2 linked regions of the Homo sapiens genome follow. The main gene of each other region encodes a partner of the protein of the gene in region 2 in a complex. Each region holds a gene or a part of one and is shown on either strand. Other genes may lie near its edges.

Region 1 (5,886 bases), on a different chromosome or scaffold from region 2:
CTTAACTTGTGGTCGACAGATCCCTGATGCAAAATTTTAAATGTGCATGACAGTTTTCTAGAGAGTATTCAGCTTTCTTTGTATTCTCAAAGTGATCCATGTCCCAAAAAGTTAAGAACCACTGATCTTAATTAAAGAGGGTTTGAAAGCAAACTGACTAGATTGACGCTCTGGCCATGGGTTGTGCAAAGAAAGCTTTTTATTTGAGAACACCTAGATACTTTTGGAAATGTTCTTGTTGGATCACAAACAACCTAATTGACAGTCTATCGCCAACATCCACAAACACAGCAAACAGTCCAGTCCTGCAGACCACACAGGGTACATCTAGAGGGTTCTACTTGCATCACCCACACTTCCACTCCTGTGAAACAACTGTCTTGGGCATGAGAAGGGCCAGGATAGGCCAGGTGAATGGCAGGCTGCCCAACAACCCCAATCCCAAACCAACCTCCCAGGCCATGGGCCCAAGTCCCTGCAGGAAGATGCTAATAGGTACAACAGGTAGAACATGTAGACACAAACATCTAGTTTATTTTTTCTGACTGTAACCAAAGTCAGCAAAAGAAACAACAAAACTTCAGTGCCCTAGAAATCCTCCTGGATTCAATGACAACACATCAATGGCCGGGCACAGGGTTGGATTCCTTTTATGAAATCACCTTATAATCTCTCATCATCCCAGGACAGTGCCTTTTGGGACTGCATGAATCTTTAATAGCTACACCACATTTTCTCATCCTTTAAGTTATGACAGACAGGTTATCTCTCTCCAAGAGCATCAGGTTAGATGCTCTTTCACTCTTACAAACTGTCAGGTGGAGGGAGAATCACGACATCATTCATAAATAACTGTGGAGTCTGGGATGCTGGCTGAAGGCATCTCCAGGAAGGACTGGAGGGCGATTTTGCTAAAGGGCTGCTCACTGCTCATTTCACTGCATGCCGCTTTTCTCACTTTGGTTGGGAGTTTGAAGGACCATGTAATCACAGAGATTAGAGCTCCCTGTGAAATCAATCACTGCCTTTAGATCTCCACAAAGACCTGTTCTCCAATAGCACATGCGTTTCTCTGTGAGCTGTATTCGCATCAGCGCCGGAGCCTCAGAAAGAATGCGTGTTTACACTCTGTACTCTCCAATGGGTAATATTTATCATAGAAATCTAATACATATTCTTCAGTCTTGAATCCAAACTTCTGGTACAGTAGCATAGCGGGGTTGCTTGCTGAGACGTGAAGGGTTACGTCCTTGCCCATGCAGGTCTGCCAAAAGAGTGGAAAAATACAAGATAAAAATGGAAAGGCCTGAGGGAAAATGAGTAGGTAAAGAAACGCTTTTAAGTGTAGGCAGTTAGTTATGGAAACCGGAGAAATCAGAGACTGAGGCTGAGACATTGCAACACCTAGCAACAGCTGGAAACAGAATGACATTTTGCTGCTGATCAAAACATTCACAAGACCAAGGAAACTGATAGTATTCTGGGTGTTTTTTATTTTTCTTTGAAGCAAAGGGTCAATGGGGATATTGTTATTGTCAGCTTTATTATTTACAACTCAATTACCTTTAAATATGTCAAACATTTCAATACCTAACACTATGATAACCTTGAATAAATACAAAACAAAATAAGTTTTGCTTTTTAAAACTAGATGTTATCTTGTACCTCCCCAAAACCTGTAAAAATTCCTTTACTAGGCCTGCTAAATTACATGCACAAACATGAAATATTAAGAATGTAATTATAAAACCTGAGGCCCTTGTATAGACCTTCTGAATCCCAAAGTCCACCTTCTGTCTCTCTAAAACTGACAGAATTAGCTTCTTAGAACTGAGATTTCTACATTCAGCTTTGACCTAATCTTAGGGGAAAAGAGTAACAATCATTCTATCAACACAAGGCAAGTCCTTAGATTCTTTAATCAGCTACACAGAGTAAGGTGTCCCAAAAGTCATATCATTTAAGAACTTACTTTTTAATAAAGAAGGCACTGAAATACTGAAGTTGATAGAGTCCTTGAGATTTATAACCCATGGTTCTCTCAGGCCTCTAAGAACTCCTCTGTTGACAGTCATCTGATAGCTACCTGCTTTCTCTGCTTAACTTCCATGTGTATCCATAGGCATTTTTAGGACAAGAGAGCACTTACCAGTATGCCAGGGACAAGAGCACTTTGTGAGTTTTTAAAGCAAATTTTGTGGGGTCATATTGGTGTTTGCTAGATTGCAAATATACGTGATCTCACCGTGGCCATCATTGAGTGCCAGCGACTGTGCGCCACCTATGTTTGGGCCCTCAGGGGTATGGTCTGGCTGGAGGGGAAGGTGCCCACCTGCAAAGATGAACCACTCCTCCAGTGGCCTCGCAAACACTCAGCAGGGACTGACTCTGTACCAGCCCTCATGTTGGGCACCAAGGACACACACACACAAGGACAGAGTACTATTCGTGCCCTGTCTTCAGGCCCTTACCAGTGACAGATACGGCAGCAAATCCTCTAAGTGCTCTCCTAGGTTAAAAAGACGCATACTGAGAGATCAACTCTTGGTTGGGATGGGGCAGAGAAAGGGAGTGTTGTAGAAATAACTGAGAAGCTCTCAAGAGAAAACCACCACCCAAAGTAGCACATATTAATTACTCAGTGAGTGATTTACATAATCACTGCCTAAGGAGAGAAGGAAAGCAATTTCTAGGAAAATGGTTCCAAGGTTCCTGCCAACATTTGGGAATTATTAAGCAAGTTTCATTAAAAATTGGAGAAACAACTTTTATCATCTTCATCTCCTCTTTAAAAGGAATCTTGCCTGCATAAACATATAATCCTCCATACCAAATGGTTTCTAAGTAAAAGTTGACTAAAAAAAATTCTAGGGGAAAAAAATCCTTGCATGTTTTTTGATGGTGATATATGGTGTATTTTCTTCAAAGGTGATACAAATATATTAAAGGATGAATTATAATTCAATACTAGAATCAAATCTTAGAAGGTTCATATCAGCCTTATACAGTGATAGTAAAATTACAAACTATCAGCAAAAATAAAATATGTAGCTAGGCACAGTGGCTCATGCCCATAATCCCAGCACTCGGGAGGCTGAGGTGGAAGGATTGCTTGAACCAAGGAGTTCAAGCACAGACCAGGCAACACAGTGAGACCCTGTCCCTACAAAAAATCAGCCGGGCATGGCAGTGTGCACCTGTGGTCCTGGCTACCCAGAAGGCTGAGGCGGGAAAATCACTCGAGCCCAGGAGGTTGAGGCTGCAGTGAGCTATGATTGTGCAACTCCAGTCTGGGTGACAGAATGAGACCCTGTCTCAAAAAATATATACATATTCTTATTGATACAGTTGTGCTAAAATGTTTACAAATATTTAAAAAAATAAAAATAATAGTCCTACCCTCACTTCTCTGAGTTGCGAAGGTGATGATCCTAAGAGCAGTAGCTACTACTAATATGAATAGTCCACCCTAAAGCTCTTGCTTTTGGTATTTTCTCATTTTATTTATACACATGTTCACAAACTGGTTTCTATGAAACCTGAGTCTGAATAATAATCTTATTTTAGAGGGTCGAAGATTTTTGACTGTGTGCTTTGATAACCTCATGAATGCTGATGACTGGCTTTCTTCACTTGGTTTACAAGGAAACCATTCCATTGGGCCATGCTGGGAAGGGCTAGCTCAGCTTCATTCCTCCTCCAGGTTGTTCAGGGGAGCCCAGACACAGGTGATAAATCATAAACATAGACAACTTACCTGAATCAGATGATAGATCATGAAAGTTGCAATCCCTGCTCTTCTCCATTCAGGGTGGACGAACAGAAATGAAATGTAAGCTTCATTGTATTTCACATCAGGAACCATGAAGCCAAAGGCAATGATGACTTTTTTATAAAGAACAACAACACTGAAGTCTGGGTACTGCAGACACTCAGACAGGTCAATGCCTAAAGAAAAGAAACCATCGGAGACTCAAACCACATGCCTTTGAGAATTAAGGAACACCAAGCTGTTCAGCATGTACATATAGCTACACCTGCATGCTAAAAAAAAAAAAAAAAAACACCAAAACTGGAGGTAACATAGAGACCACACAACCAGATCATAAAAATAAGAGTGAATTTTAGAAAATATTGAAATTACATAGTATTTCCTAAAAGAAGAGTGGCAGAATAGGGTAGGTAGCAGTGCACGGGTTCAGAATTGGACACAGCTGGCTTTGAACTCAGCCTCCTCTACCATGTGTGGCTTGGCACATTTCAAAATGTCTCAGAGACTCCGTTTCTGCAATATGTAAGATGAAGAGCATACCTAGACCTGACAGGGTTAAGTAAAGATCCTCCGAGCGTGTTCTATCACATCCTTTACCCCCCACACATATAATTTATAAGTTCTTTTGTACAAATGCTACCTTTCACAATAAATAAGTAAAATATGCTTCTGTGCATAATGTATGGAAGGCACCTAACATAAGGGCAGGAAGCAGGAGATGCTCCCAGAATGTTACTTTTGGCTCAGTATGACTCCCAAAAGAATGAGTGCAGCTCTGCCACCACATTCACAGTTATGTGATTATGTGACAATAAAGACGACACAGCTCTATCTTGATGAAATCGTATCTAACATCTGAAAGACATGTATTATTTCCTTTAGGTTTCAAGGCAGCGTGGGAAAGCAGATCCACAAAGAATAGTTTATATTTAGCAATGCAAATGTGTTCCTTTAATTAATGACTTTGGTCTTCAGAGGCAATTTTGTTAAGGCTGATAAAATGACAAATTATATTGGGTTTACCCTTATTCTCAGTCTGTGATCAGGGCATTTGGCTTTTAAAAAACACCTTCTGGCTGTACTAATACTCTCTAAGGAACAGCTAAATAAACAAAACATAAAGAATTATTAAGCCAAAAACAAAAGTGTCCAAACACGCCCAAGCTACCAGTCTGTGTATCTTTGATAGACATTACCTGGTATCTAAACATATGCAGAAGCAAAACAGGATGAATCTTTTACTCTGGAAACAGAGACAAACAGGGAAGAGAAACAAACAAAAACACTGTTTATTGCTGGCTTCTTCTAGATTTTGGGAAAGCAAGAGGTATTTGTATTTTAATATTTCCATGTTAGCAGAGACAAACTAAACGAAATCATAAATAAAAATCTTAAGGATATCACATAAACTAATTTTAAAAATTGCTAGAATGGACTGTACAGAAAAATGACCTGCCTGGTTTGGGAGGGGGAACATACCAGGCCAAAAAAACTCCTGACACATGGAGTTGATCGTTGGGATGTGATTTGGCCGCACATAACAGTAATCGAGAGGTGCGTCGGGCTCCGGCGTCCAGTGAGGGTCGCTCCTGTGCAGGTGGGAACGAATCTGTGACAGGAGCTGCAGTTTGGGTGGCTTTGTTTCATAATCACGCCTCCGGTACCACAGAAGATAAACAAATTCAAGTCAAGAAAAATACCTGGTATTATTCCTAGCTTTTTGACTCATATAAACTCTTTGATCTGCTTGAAACTTTAAAGTAACCTGCACTGTTTTACACGAAGCTGGCTTGATTACAGCTATACTTTTATGTATGAAATCTAAAATTCACTCTGAACATTCATCAGGCCAAAGCCCTCTGTACCCACCAGGGACTGTGCTAGGTGCCTTCATGAACAGTGAGGAAACAGATACAGCATCAGATTCACCCCAAGGAGTCAGACATGAGGATGCATCTCCAGTGCCTTGGAGGCCAGAAGAGGGAACACTCAACTTTGCGGGGCATTTGGGGAACACCAGAGACACAATGAGCTTGGAGCAGGCTCACAAACTGCTTCTCACTGTGCCTGCCCAGGAATGTGGTGCTGGCATGGAGGGTCAGGGTGATCATGGA
Region 2 (7,213 bases):
TAGGTACAAAGAAATGAATATGACAGACATAGTTGCACTCTCACGGACTATCTAGCAGGAGACAGACATTAAACAAACAGAACCATGATAACTGCTTTAAAGGGGAGCAGGGAATACCAGGTGCTATATAAGATTATACAAAAGGTGAATCTGCACTGGTCTAGGATTAGGAAGAAAAAGCATGGACAGAAGGGCATGAGTATAAAGATCCTAAAGCAGCACAACGAGTGGGAGATGGGAAGCCCAGAGGTGTAGCTGGAACTACAGATGTGGACAATACTATTTAAAATTACAAACCCCCTTCAATCCCAATCTCCACATTTTTAGCTGGGAAGAAACAAGATCAAATTTGAGCTTTAGAAAAAGCAATCTGGCCACAGGGTAGAGATGATCTAGAGGAGTCCAGTGGCAAAGAAACCAGTAAATATCCTTCCATCAGTCCAAGCCAGAGATCACAGTGGCTTCAACTCTAGTAGTAGCAGTAGAGATAAGACAGAAGTGGGCAGATTTGAGAGATATTTATTTAGAAAACAGAATCAACAGACATGGTGACTAAATGGAGAGGGAGACTCAGTCTCTGCACCCAGTGAGGACTTGGGTTTGAGCAGGGTGCAGTAGTGACACATGATTGTAGTCCCACTGACACAGGAGGTTGAAGCAGGAGCATTACTTGAGCCTAGGAGTTCAAGTACAACCTGGGCAAGACTGGACTATCTCTTTTTTCTTTTTTTTTTAGAGTTGTCACTTAGTATCTTAGGCATGTTTGCTTGGGCTCTTTAAACTTCAATTTATTTATCTGTACAGTGATAACACCACCACCATCTCAAAAGGGTACTATGACCTTTTAAGTGAATTGACATACACATAACACTTCCTGAGTGACTGGCACTTACTGTTCAAGAAATGTTAGGAGCTAAATGAAAATTTGGTGACTAAATGAACTGCAATTTTTTAACCATTTGCAAAGGTTCATTATGAGGTGCCACTTAGCACTTTGCTTACCTGTCTGTAACCGCAAGTGGGCCTCAATATTTTGTAGTCGTTCTTCTACAGCCTGATTACCACAGTCTCGAAGCATGCTGTTAGGTTTATGACCTGACCCTGGAATTCCTTCAGGTCTAGTCTGTGGTCCGTATGTATTCACAACTCTAGAAACTAAATTAAGAAACTTTTGAGCCTATATACATTTGTATTTCAAAAATCAGAAATTCTTATTCCTTAACAGCACTTTATATTTTTTTCATAAAGACCATCTAACCACAAGTATGAAGGACGGCAAGATGTTTTTGTTTTAAAATAAAATTTAGATGGGAAAGTTATTTCTATTCCATTTTGCTAATAATCTAGACTTCTGTCAGTGACTCAGATGTCATGTGGTGGTTACTTACCTTTTACGTGACTTTTAAATCCGGGGTAAGGGGTAAAAATCGCATCAGTTCTTGCACAACTATTTTCTAAGGAGAATTTAGATAAATATAAGTTTAAATATATTCTTCCCTTCAAATGTATGAGATTTTAATAAACTTTCAATAATTCATATTAACATTTTACTCATAATAATTTTAATAAATAATAGTAACAATAAATTACTATCACACATAGGATAGAATTTAGTGACCTTCTTTACCTGTCAAAATTTATCATAATATCTAATATTCTTACCTAATGTTCAGATTTATATACAGAAAAGCCATCAACATTAAGTGGCACAAATTGATACAATTTTGAAAACCAATGTCACTATTTGGGCCACTGGAGAAAATAATCTACCATAGAGTATTTAAATTCTACTTCATCGTAGAAATAAAACTCATCATTTTTACTAGAATTCTTTTAATTCAGCATTTTTTATTTTAATGACCAAATTAGTGAACATCCAACAAAAAGAATTATTTAACATTTTTATTTCAGAACTCCACACAAAGATGACCTCAAAACCTCAAGTACACATACATTTCCACTCTACCTAGATTTCCAGTGCTCATTTTAAAAACCCTTCATCACAAAAGTCATCTACTTCTTCTTATCCCACCACTTTTCAAAAAAGTTTCATTTTAGTAAAGGTCTATTGTGAAAATTTGTCCCTATTTTTTTCCAAGCTGAAAAGTAGTTTCTTTCAAATTAAGTATCAATGCATAAATTACAAAAGGGGAAAATTGGAAAGATGTTAACATATAATACAACTAATTAACATAATTGTTATATATTAACATACGATACTACATAGTAATAATATATACTTATGTTTGAAATAATGTTTAAAGGCCACACATTGGCAGTAAATCTCCTGTAAAATTCCCCTGAATATTTTGTAAAAAATGGCTGGTAAATGAGATTCTTTAAAAAAAATTATTTTTTCCCCCCTATGAAATTTGATTTTTAAAAATTCCACTGCTTATAGTTAGGTTAAATTTGTAGGTATTAAAAGGAACACACTAACATATTAAAATACATTTGTATTTTTTTCAGTTGAACTTTCCTTAGTAGTTCTGTTGATAAATCAAATAGTATGCATAAAATTCCAAATCCACTTAGCTTTTATATCTAGAGACTAAATAGACATCTTTCCTCCTTTTTTTTTTTTTTGGAGGCACCTCAAAATATGCTTAAAGGGCCATCCTTTCTCCATTCTCTTCCTACCATTTCATGGGGCTAAGGGTTAAAAAAAGAAGCTATCATCCATTCCAGAACTATATTCCAAACATATAGATTAACTGACCATCAGTGAGAAATTCAGCATGGTGTGAGTGTATGACTGCTAGTCACTCTCCACAGCAATTCTTGCTAGCACTGTTTTGAGCCAGCAAAGAATTGAATGGGCCAAGGAATCCTGCTGAGCATTTCAATTCTCGTCAATTTCTATCCCCTGGTGGTTTATAATAATAGAGTTAGCAGGGAGAACAGAGGAATAACATTAGTGACACATGTGCTTGCTCTCTCAACAAACCCTTTCTCATAGTCGCTTGTAGTTGGTTGTAGTACCTGAGATTTTGCCATTGTTGCACCTGTTCTGAAAAGCTAACAGGAAAATATACCAAATTTAGAGATGCACATGTGTAATGTTAATAGTAGCACACAGCTAAATTCAGGACCCAATACCAGCCTATATTATTTCATTAAGAGAATCAGTGTACCAATGTGATATGAGTCATTTCTAGGTTCATCTGACAATTCTATGTTCATAATAATTAGCCATGAGATATTAGAGGCAACAAGAAACATGTTCATTCCAATTATGAACTCTTCTCCATAATTTTTCCTAAGAACTACTTGTTCTGATTATTACTATGGTGCCTGAGTATAATCTATGGCACTGCATTGCAATATTTTGTATTCTGCAGCATACTTGCAGATTTGTAAATGTACTATAGCATCAAGTAGAGAGGTAAAGGTGAATCAGATGAAAAACAGCAAATGTATGCACTATGGCAGAAAGGAAAAAAGCAAGACACCATGGTCTTCATGATAAATTGGTTGTATCGTGACACAGGACATTTCAAACAGCTCAGGAGTAGTGAGAAAACTGCTCCCTCTGGAGGAATATTAACTTTACTAAGTTCACTTACGTATTAACATCATGATTTCACAGTACATGTATAGGTTTGAAATTCATAGAGCTCAGTTCCTTTTACTAGTGAGATAGATCAACCTTCTCACTCGTACCTCACCTTCATTTCCTAAAGGAACTTTAAAATAATCTTCACCTGTGATAAACACTTTTTAATGTTAGCATTTACTTTGTGTAACCAAAATGAAAACCAGTTTGCAATATAGTCTATTATTAAGCAGAAGGAAACTCTACTGTCTTAATTACTAACTAAATCCATGAAATAAATTGAATTGTGTTCTAAAAGCTATTCATTTAAAAAATAAATAAAAGATTAGAGCAACTATAAAAATTGTGCTTAAAACCCTATGAAAATTAATTTCCAGGTAGTTACCTTGATTACAATCAATAACATTGCAAAATTCCCTGACGTTGTTTTCATTGATTTCAGCTTGCTTTCTTTCAATAAATGCAGATATTCGTCTGTCAATCTACAAACAACAAGTTTTAACAGTGTAAACATAAGATTTTTTAAAATAATACCCTCTCGCCCCCGCCAAAAAACCTTCTTACTTCTGCTTTTCCAGCCTTTATCTGAACTACTTCTGGATCAAAATGGATCTGTGTCTTTTTCACATCTCTTAAATCACTTTCTTTGTGCTTTTCTTCCTCTTGTAGGTCGCCAATGGAAAATTTGTCATTTACTTCATTTTTGTTCCCCATTTCTGTTCTTCCTATCTCTTCAACAGCAGTTGTATTCTCCTCTTTAATCGGAGACTGAAGTTTTGCTAAAAAAGGCTGAGAACAACACAATTCCATCTGCTGAGGTTCAATCTGACCAAAATTAATTACACACTTAATATATTTACATAAATTTCTGCTAAGTAAATGAAATACTTAATATCAGTTAATAAATATAAAAAGTTGGTATACCAGGACACATAGATCTGACCACATATAAGTACTCACTATTCTCTGCTATTGTAACCATTATCATTTGCTATAAATTTGTTTTTTAAAAAAGGAGAGAGGAAAAAAGAAAAGAAAAAAGAAAAGAAAACCTAAGGAAATTTAAAATTTTCTTTGAGAGAATCATTCTGTCACTCATCTTTTATTTTGTGCCAAATCAAAGCCTTCAGCCTCTGGCACCAATGCCACTTAATTAACATGTCATTCAAATGCCTCCTCAGAACACTAAGGCTTAGTATTTTTCCTCCTTAACACGAGAGCTAGTGCTCTCACTCAGCAAAGCCCTGCATTATCACTGTATCACTGGAGATTCTCCACTTGAAACTGCAGTTGGCCAATGTGAATGAGGAAGCATAGACATGAAATATATAGGTGTTAGGCTGAGTGAACACTCAGACTTTTCCTGACATGGCAAGATATCTTTTGGTCATAAAATTAAATTTTAAAAAAGAAAACGAACAAGAAAAAAAAAAGATCTATAGCTGAAAACAGGCAGAGGCCTATCACTATACTACAGGGGGAAAACCCCTGTTGTAGAATTTAAACTATATTACTCATTTACTGTTCCCCTCCCCCACTCCCCACAATGAGGTCTCATTTGAGTTCTAGAGCTCACTGCTCTGCCCTTTAAAAACAGGGTTAACTATTACTTTTAACATGAAACAGTTAAAATTTCCCACAAAGTCAATGAATGGAGGGCTGAAAATTAATGCCTATTCCATTAGTCAAAACACACTAACACTAATAACGTTCCAATTATTTTTTTCATACCTACAATTTTGCTTCCATTGTTCGCTATACTACTCTTTTGAAATCTTATAACACCTTAATCACAGTAAACTGACCAATCCAGTTTTTCCACTTATCTTTTTGACACTTCACATTTTACACTTTGATTAGAGATAAACTGCAAACTTACATCAATTATAATTGCAAAGATGTTCAATTAGAAACCAGCAAGGTCATAATACTGTTCAGTTATTAACATGAAATATTTAAAAATATAACAACACTATTATAAATACCAATTCAATATTAACTTCTAATATAAAGAATGAATTATTTCAAACTGTTAAGGAAAAGAAATGATAAAATAGTGACTGGCTACTTACTAAGATGAGACATTAATGTCATAGAAATTACTTTCTTTTTAAAAACTATGCTGAAACTGTTTAATTGCAATAGACACTCCAGGATGTGTCATGCTGGGATAATGCCCCTTCTTGAACCACTGAAAGCACTCCATGAGCCTCCAAACTCACCCAAGGCATGGAATCATTATCATAGCATGACACACACCTGCCGTGTCTTATTGCTTAATTATAACCCACCATAGATGGAACTGTATTGAATTTTCAGTGCAGGTCTAGAATTGAATAGAATTGCATTCATTCACTCATACCCACATTGGTCTTTTGGGCTATATTCCCTTAACTGTCCTGATCACTACTGAAATTAACAGATTTAGATTAAATCCGGATGTAAATAACGTTTTATTAGCAACACTATTAATATAGTGTTTAGAACTGTCAAATACTCCAACTAACTTAACCACAATCAATTTCTATTTTCAATATCGGGTTATCATTTCTAACAAGAAATTTACCTGTAAATATAAAATGTGTTGTTCAAGTGCACTAAAGAGCAATGCAGGCTGGAATGCCGAGAGGCTCTGGAGCTTGTTCCAATCGATTGTAATTTTCACCACATCATCTCTGAGGTCAAGCTTCAAAGGGGCAAACCAGCAACATCACAAAAATTACACGATTAAGCTCTACATATGGAATTGTCACAAAAATAAGATTTCTAGAGTAACGGGTCTATTTTGCTCTAAGTTATCAAGTTTTTAATAATACACTGAAATGCTCTACCCAGTTACCATTTCAAAAGGCCAAGAAAGCTACAGATTTTCATAAAAAAACAAAAACAAAATGACATGTCGTTCAAATTCTATTCTTAGGTCTGTGTAATGGGACCATTTTAGAGGTAAAACCATTCATGAAAGATGAAAAGATGAAGGCTCTTTTGATACTTCAATATATACAAACCTTTGGATGGAGTCCAATATAGGCTTGCCCTATTCAGAATCCTACTACTTCTAGCTCAGAGCCTTAAACAGAGGAAGTACAAGTGTTTTGTGAAAGTTTTAACATGCATCTTTCTCTTTAAGTATGTACACAAATACATATCAGAAATATATCATTATTCTGATGTCCTCCAAATCACATTTTTAGTTTTTTAACTTTTAACCGATTTTTAAACTAATTTAAAAGTCAAGATTATTCATACATATAAAGTGTAGGGATAAATGGCAACATGTTTATTTCAAATAAAAAACTATTATTTAGCAATGGAAGTCTGAAGCTGAAAAACAAAGACTTCTCCACCACAGTGAAATAAGTTGTCAGACTGGATGAAATGTCCAGATCTTTTGTAAATGCTAAGATGTGACAGCTCATTATATGGAAATTTCTATCAGTTGGTGATCTAATAGAATAAAATCATATCCAGAAAACTACCAAGAACCTGAATATAAGATTATTATCAAAATGAGTGAAAATTTTACAATGAGAGCGCCCATCTGCAGTCTTTTGAATGAATAAAAGTGAACCATCAAAAACTTTTCTAGGGACATGTGTTTACAGCATAGTATAAGACTATACTTCATAGTAGAATCAAGTTAACATAATTTATTCA

The links.
Region 1: MBIP (region 2) and KAT14 share a complex: the UniProt entries of both Homo sapiens proteins name them as parts of the ADA2A-containing complex.

The regions. Positions count from the first base shown.
Region 1 is NC_000020.11:18,182,664-18,188,549, reverse strand, and holds the end of KAT14 (cysteine-rich protein 2-binding protein), read right to left. Parts: intron 5,428-5,886; coding exon 5,252-5,427; intron 3,949-5,251; coding exon 3,758-3,948; intron 1,265-3,757; coding exon 1,091-1,264; 3' UTR 515-1,090; downstream 1-514. UniProt on the Homo sapiens protein: Component of the ATAC complex, a complex with histone acetyltransferase activity on histones H3 and H4. May function as a scaffold for the ATAC complex to promote ATAC complex stability. Has also weak histone acetyltransferase activity toward histone H4.
Region 2 is NC_000014.9:36,310,571-36,317,783, forward strand, and holds part of MBIP (MAP3K12-binding inhibitory protein 1), read right to left. Parts: intron 6,243-7,213; coding exon 6,123-6,242; intron 4,346-6,122; coding exon 4,121-4,345; intron 4,039-4,120; coding exon 3,942-4,038; intron 1,455-3,941; coding exon 1,389-1,454; intron 1,156-1,388; coding exon 1,003-1,155; intron 1-1,002. UniProt on the Homo sapiens protein: Inhibits the MAP3K12 activity to induce the activation of the JNK/SAPK pathway. Component of the ATAC complex, a complex with histone acetyltransferase activity on histones H3 and H4.